Regions from separate parts of the Homo sapiens genome. Here region 1 is reported to be linked to region 2. The links are microRNA targets in miRTarBase. Many come from high-throughput screens and were not tested one by one. Region 2 holds a microRNA gene; the other region holds the end of a gene's coding sequence.
The links. The annotated mature microRNA hsa-miR-3134 reads UGAUGGAUAAAAGACUACAUAUU and lies in region 2 at 941-963, shown strand. An mRNA with a match to its seed (bases 2 to 7 or 8) in the 3' UTR can be bound and repressed. Matches are read on the target gene's strand: a 7mer-m8 pairs with bases 2 to 8, a 7mer-A1 pairs with bases 2 to 7 and ends in A, and an 8mer does both.

Region 1 (3,420 bases), not on the chromosome of region 2:
ATTAAGAATGCTGGGGCAGGTCAGGACAACAAACAAAGAAACTCAAGAGACTGTGACACCTGTTCAAGCAAAGCTATGCTTAACAGATACATCTGTGGTTTCAAGAAGGATAAGCAAAAAGGGTAGCCATGGGAAGGAAGAAGAAAAAGAAAGCAGCCATAAAACACTTCCAAAAGGAGGTCATTTTCCCTGGTGTGAAATGCACAGATAATTTAATGTAATTTACTTTAAGATTTTCCCCTCTCAGGGTCTGATTTCAGAAAATCAAATTACAAAGTCATCATCACATCCTAGATTTATTACAACTGACCTGCAGGCAAAAGGATAGAACTATTACATAAACACTTCGATTCCATGTATATATCTTAAATAGAGGAGGAATTCAAACAAGAATACAGGATAAAATATTCCAAAGCTCCAAGAAGCAGTTATGTTACTGAGCTCCATTTTTTACAGACAAATAAGGCAATATCCCTGCACATTAGCTTTTTGATAATTTTTATACATTTTTCTATGGTACAAGAGAAAAATAACCAGAGCTCACAATGTACAGTTCTTACACTATTTTCACAGTTTGTGAACACTATACACCCTTTTGTTTTAATAAAGATACATTGTAATAAACTCCTTGCCCTTAAGTTTATAGTTTATAATAATCTATGATTAATACACTAAAATTGCCTTCTTATGTGGTCATCCACACAATAGAACGGTCAGATTAGCTCCTGGACAGTCAGAATTGCTTTTATCTCCATTTGCATAATGGCAAAGTGACCCTATGCTGAGCCAGATGGGAAGTTGACAGCAGAGAAACAGATTCCTCTTGAGTCCCCGGGAGCAATGGAGGATGATGGCTTGCTGTGGTCGAAGGCAGACATAGAGCAATGTCTCCTTTCAGAACAGTGGGAAGTCTAAAGTTTAGGATACCGTGGGGGAGAAGATAGGGAAATGAGGCAAGTAGATCAAAGAGATAATCACTTTTGAATTCTGCAATTTACAGGGATGTGACTTTAAACAGCACCATTCTCCCTTTATTGTTTGACAGTATTTATGACTGTCACTCTGAGAGGAGACACAGCAATACGTGCCACGATTTGGTTCTGTAATGGCATCACCTGCATCTCAGGCCATGACTGTTTTATATTCCAGTGTGCTTGAACCACTCACAGTGCTGCTTCACTGTCATACAAAGCCTAAGGTTCAGTGCCAGGGAGGCCCAAGCAAAACCTAATGAGAACCTGGCTAATGGGTAAGTGAAGAAGCACAAGATACTTAAATGGCCTCTTGTAACAGTGCTGAGGGTTTTGTTTTGCTTTTTGTATTTTTTTCCAGTAGAATTCCAATGCCAAGAAATGGTGATGGACTACGAGAGGTTCTAGCAGGTGATGAACGTAAAGGCTGCCGTTTCGGATCCTCATCTGGTCCAATGTGTCTCTAGAAAAGATGCCTCTTTATCACCTACCACATCGGCTGGGCCCCACTATTCTTAGCCTTTTAAACACTAGCGAATATGAGAGATTTGGGGCTAAAAATCCTTGGTAAGGAACATCCCTGCTAACTGTAAAGGTTTTTTGATATAGAAAAAAGGCAAAATATTGGATTAAGCGCAAGTCACATAGCGACAATAGACCACAGGGGAAGGGAAAGAGATTCGGAAACTGAAGACCTGGACCAGTGATGGCAAGAAGCAAACAACTGAGATTTGGTCTTTTGCTGCCTACTAGAAATCTTTATCTAATCAATCAAGGCACATTGCTACTAGCTACTTCTCCCTGTTAGTGAGTTATGATGGCTAAAGTATCAGGCTTGGGACCAAGGGGAAATATATAGCTGCTACAAGTTGTTCCAGATAAAATACTAGAATTAAAAACATCTGTAAACTTTGCCTTCTGTACTGTTTTCTTCTTTCAGTCCTGGTGGTTTGTGGCAGGTGGAACATCAAGTTGGCAGCACACCGAATTCTGAGAATGAAAAATTCTTAGGATCAGCACCTTCTTTGACAAGTGGCAGACTCCTGAGTCTTCCCATTGAAAAATAGGACTGGTAAAGGAGAAAAGAACACATTCTGTCCTGTCTCTATATTTTAATGTTCACCTCTTTGAACGCAACATGGTTTTTGGTAAAGATAAATTCATTCTAATTTAACATGATATTTCAAACAGGAAATTTGGCTGAGCACATCGATCCCCAAACATCAACTGTAACTGTAAAGCAACAGAATATCACATCAGTAATCTATTGCACTTGGTGAAGAAAGTAAATTCCTCCTTTGTCTCCCAGCTCCAGAAGGCAATGTGTCTCGTTGGCTGTGCAAGCTCTTCTCACTCAAGCCCGAGTTTCTATGTTCAGACATAGTACATTCATCACTGTGTCCTTCCAGGATTTGGAAGTCTGACAAAACACCATTCCAGTAGCTGCATCTCCAGGTTTTGAGTCTAGAAATGAATTTAAGATGTGATCTAATCACAGTCAACAACTTGATCGTACTGACTTCCACATTTCATGAATATGTTCATCACAAAAGAGCAGGATGAGGTCTCTCTGACCAGCACTAACACTGTGTGATCAATCAGGTATTACAAGGATGCACGTTCTAGGTGACAGGAGTATACAGACATGATGGAAACGAACACCAATCTTATTGCACATGGTGTCTGGGCGAGCAATAAAAACACTGTGATACGGGATGAAAATTCTTTACGTCTTGCTTCCTCTCAGCCCTTTTTTCTAGAGTCTGATGTAGCAGCGATATCAATCGACATACATGGGAGAGCTGGGAGTAGCTGGCATTTGATCCAGGATTTTACAAACATAGCATGCGACCTCAACGGCACGTTCTTCATACATCAAAATAAAGGGATGTTTCTGCAAGAAAATTGAAAACAAAAAAGTCAAAAGTTTGTATGACAGCCCAAACTGAACATTTTCCAATTTCTATAGAACATAGAACTCCAGGCTCCCAACCACACATAGCTATGAAATACCGCAACACTACAAGTTCAGAGAGGCGAGTACAGCCTTTATTCCATGCAGATATGCTAATGGGCATGGGCATGCCTAGAGAGAGGATACGTGGTAATGATCTGAAGGTGCCACCTTGGCAGTGAGGTCTGGAAACTCATCTGTATACCAGGGAGTGTTTGTTGAGGAAGACAGCCAAGTTGTCACTCAGCACAAAACATAGCTGGAGCCTCCACCACACCATCTAAGAGCTAAGAAGAATGACGCAAATGCCAGTCACTATTCCTCTTGGGACACCAATATAAATCTCAACCTCCATTTCTCCTATATACAACAGGAGGACCTTTTTACAAAAAGGTCGCAATCCTTTTGACCTCTTCTTTTGACCTTTTAACAAAAAGGCTGTAATTCTTTTGACCAAAAGAGGCCCAAGAGAAATTTGCCCCAGGAGCTTCTTCC
Region 2 (3,420 bases):
TTTGTCATAACTAGCCCTTACTATTTTGAGATACATTCCATCAATACCTAGTTTATTGAGAGTTTTTAGCATGAAGTGCTGTTGAATTTTGTCGAAGGCCTTTTCTGCATCTATTGAGATAATCAGACAGACCGCTAGCAAGACTAATGAAGAAGAAAAGAGAAGATTCAAATAGACACATAAAGGGAATATCACCACCGAGCTCAAAGAAATACAAACTACAATCAGAGAATACTATAAACACCTCTACGCAAATAAACTAGAAAATCTAGAAGAAAGGGATAAATTCTTGGACATATACACCCTCCCAAGACTAAACCAGGAAGAAGTTGAATCTCTGAATAGACAAATAACAGGTTCTGAAATTGAGGCAATAATTAATAGCCTACCAAACAAATAAAAGTCCAGGACCAGATGGATTCACAGCCGAATTCTACCAGAGGTACAAAGAGGAGCTGGTACCATTCCTTCTGAAACTATTCCAAACAATAGAAAAAGAGGGAATCCTCCCTAACTCATTTTATGAGGCCAGCATCATCCTGATACCAAAGCCTTGAGAATTTTAGGCCAATATCCCTGATGAACATCAATGCGAAAATCCTCAATAAAATACTGGCAAACTGAATCCAGCAGCATATCAAAAAGCTTACCCACCACAATCAACTCGGCTTCATCCCTGGGATGCAAGGCTGGTTCAACGTACGCAAATCAATACACGTAATCCATCACATAAACAGAACCAATGGCAAAAAAAAAACAAACACATGATTAAATTTATTTTTATTGTATTTTATTTCAATAGTTCCTGGGGAACAGGTGGTTTTTGGTTACATAGATAAGTTCTTTATTGATGATTTCTGAGATTTTGGTGCACTGGTCCCCTGAGCAATGTACACTGTATCCAATGTGTAGTCTTTTATCCCTCACATGGAGTAAAATATGATGGATAAAAGACTACATATTGGGTACAATTTGGGAACTTCCCCCTGAGTCCCCAAAGTCCATTCTATCATTTTTGTGCCTTCGCGTCTCCTCATAGCTCCCACTTATGAGCGAGAACATACGATATTCGTTTTCCATCCCTGAATTGCTTCACTTAGAATAATGATCTCCAACTCCAGGTTGCTGCAAATGCTATTATTTTGTTCCTTTCTATGTCTGAATAGTATTCCATGGTGTATATATACCACATTTTCTTTACGCACTCGTTCGTTGATAGATAGCCTAAATAGACTTGTTTCATATTTTTGCAATTGCGAATTGTACTGCTATAAACATGCATGTGCAAGTGCCTTTTTCAAATAATGACTTCTTTTCCCCTGGGTAGATACTCAGTAATGGGATTGCTGGATCAAATGGTAGTGTTACTTTTTGTTCCTTAAGGAATCTCCATACAGTTTTCCATAGTGGTTTTACATATAGTGTTTTTTAAAATTATTTTCCTCATATTTTATTATCACAGAAATGAAATGAAGTATCTCTTATGGATACCTTCTTACCACTTTACTCTGTTTATATACCTCTTCTTAGTCCTCTAATTCAGATTCATTGAGTTCTGACCTTGGTTTCTTGAGGTTTTGTTTTGTTTAACATCCTTTCTTGAGCTTCATGATGAAAAATTTACTCATTCTGTGTTCTAGATAGATAAATAGTAATATTGCCAATATTATGTACTCACCACCACGAAAAGTTTAATCCTATCCAACATTGTTTAGTAGAATAGGTGGTGGTATAGATAGAGACTGTGTAAAAGATAGCCTTCACATATGAAAAAAAAAGCTGTCTGACAGACTTTTGAGGTATCCACTTTGAATCAAGAAGATTCTCATGAATGTTTCATTTGCATTTTTATGATACTTTAGTCAGTGTCATTTAAATGACATTTTTATAGTGTAATACATTTATGATTTTTATATTACTCAAGTATAAGAAAAATTGTCAGTTTTTAATTTCAGTCTCTTTTTATCATTGGTTAATATGCAGGATTTAGGATTTTCAGTATGTTGTTGTTGTTGTATATAGGTGCCTGGAATACTTATTAAGAAACGATGCAAATCCAGGGATCCGTGATAAGCAAGGATACAACGCAGTTCATTATTCAGCTGCTTATGGTCACCGTCTATGTCTTCAGCTGGTAAGATTCCTGAATTCTTGTGAAAGACCTAATGGGAGTTTATAGTCTAATAATGTAACAAAAATGAGAATAAATGGATCAAGGAACAAATTCCATTTTGTTTTTTAACATTTTCAGAATTTATATACCTCTTAAATTCACACTTGCTTTAGTAAGATATATCTCATTCTCTTTTCCTTTTAAAAAAGGAGAAAATTAGATCTCTGAAGAGGGCTACTGATTACCCCATGTTCATGTCTACACTATTTACTTCTCCTGCCCCTTTAAATTAATATTCCTCATAAGTTTCTAAAAAACTATAACTGTGTCTTTTGTGAGAAATAAAAGTCCCTGTGAAAGGAATATCTCCCCCATATATTTAGGGAATTCCAAAAGGCACATTTATTTCACAACCCCTCCTAACAAGGGAGACTCCACTTCTGCAGAGGACGTTTTTATTTCTGCTGTGGTCTGATTCTGGAATAGAATACCACCATTCACCCAAATTTACCAAACCAGAAGGAAAGTCAAGGAAAAGATATTCATGTGTGTAACAGATACTTTAGGTTAAAGATGCTCTTATTTAGACTTACCTTATAAATTACATTAAACTTTGCTTCCCTTCAAGGGGAAATAAAATTCAACGAGCGTAGATATAAAACAAGAAAAGGGAGGTTGACAATTTAATATAGCACTTAGAGCCCTGCTACAAAAATAACTATTTTCCTACGTTATGGATATTCACACCAAAATTTTAGACCTATGTATATAGATTTGACGTCTGTTGTGATATAAAATTGTTTATTCAAAACACCTAATTTTTTGGAGCCAAAGGAAGCACGGGTTTAGGGTAAAAGTTAGCAAAGCTCTATATAAGTTGAGACTTAATATAGATGAATACTTCCCAAGCTAAATATTTTTGTTTTGACTTTTATTTCAGATTGCAAGTGAAACTCCTCTAGATGTTGTAAGTATTAGTCAATTCCCTCCCACCAATTAGTATTGGTCAGTTCCCTCCTACCAGTTATGTTTATCTGTTTGCTCTCATTAGAGCTGAAAGTGTTTTTACATATTAGGCACAAAGACGGTGACAGAAATCATGTGTACAGAGGAAAGGAAGATGTTTACTTGGTGGCAATTAAGTAGCATTTCCCCCAAACTCTTATGCCTGTCTTCAAAGCTCTTAGTCTGTGGTCCTTAGTATACTTTCATAATAATCATGTTTTATAAGTTTGCTGAGTTGCCAAATAATACTCTAAGGTGGATTTGAACTGGGTGGGTGGGAGAGAATAATTGCTGTAGTATGT

Region 1: the mRNA of MAP2K4 is a reported target of hsa-miR-3134. Seed matches in the 3' UTR shown: 7mer-A1 at 2,618-2,624 and 7mer-A1 at 1,357-1,363.

What each region holds. Positions count from the first base shown.
Region 1 is chr17:12,140,592-12,144,011 of GRCh38, reverse strand. It overlaps MAP2K4 (mitogen-activated protein kinase kinase 4), which reads right to left. Exons shown (of 11, transcript NM_003010.4): 11 at 184-2,865. The coding sequence ends at 2,752. Among named protein-coding and RNA genes, the nearest start is that of MIR744, 60 kb to the right of the region's middle.
Region 2 is chr3:15,694,848-15,698,267 of GRCh38, reverse strand. It overlaps MIR3134 (microRNA 3134), which reads left to right and starts at 897; the gene lies at 897-970. It overlaps ANKRD28 (ankyrin repeat domain 28), which reads left to right. Exons shown (of 28, transcript NM_001349278.2): 15 at 2,023-2,134; 16 at 3,054-3,080. It also overlaps a transcript of BTD not described here.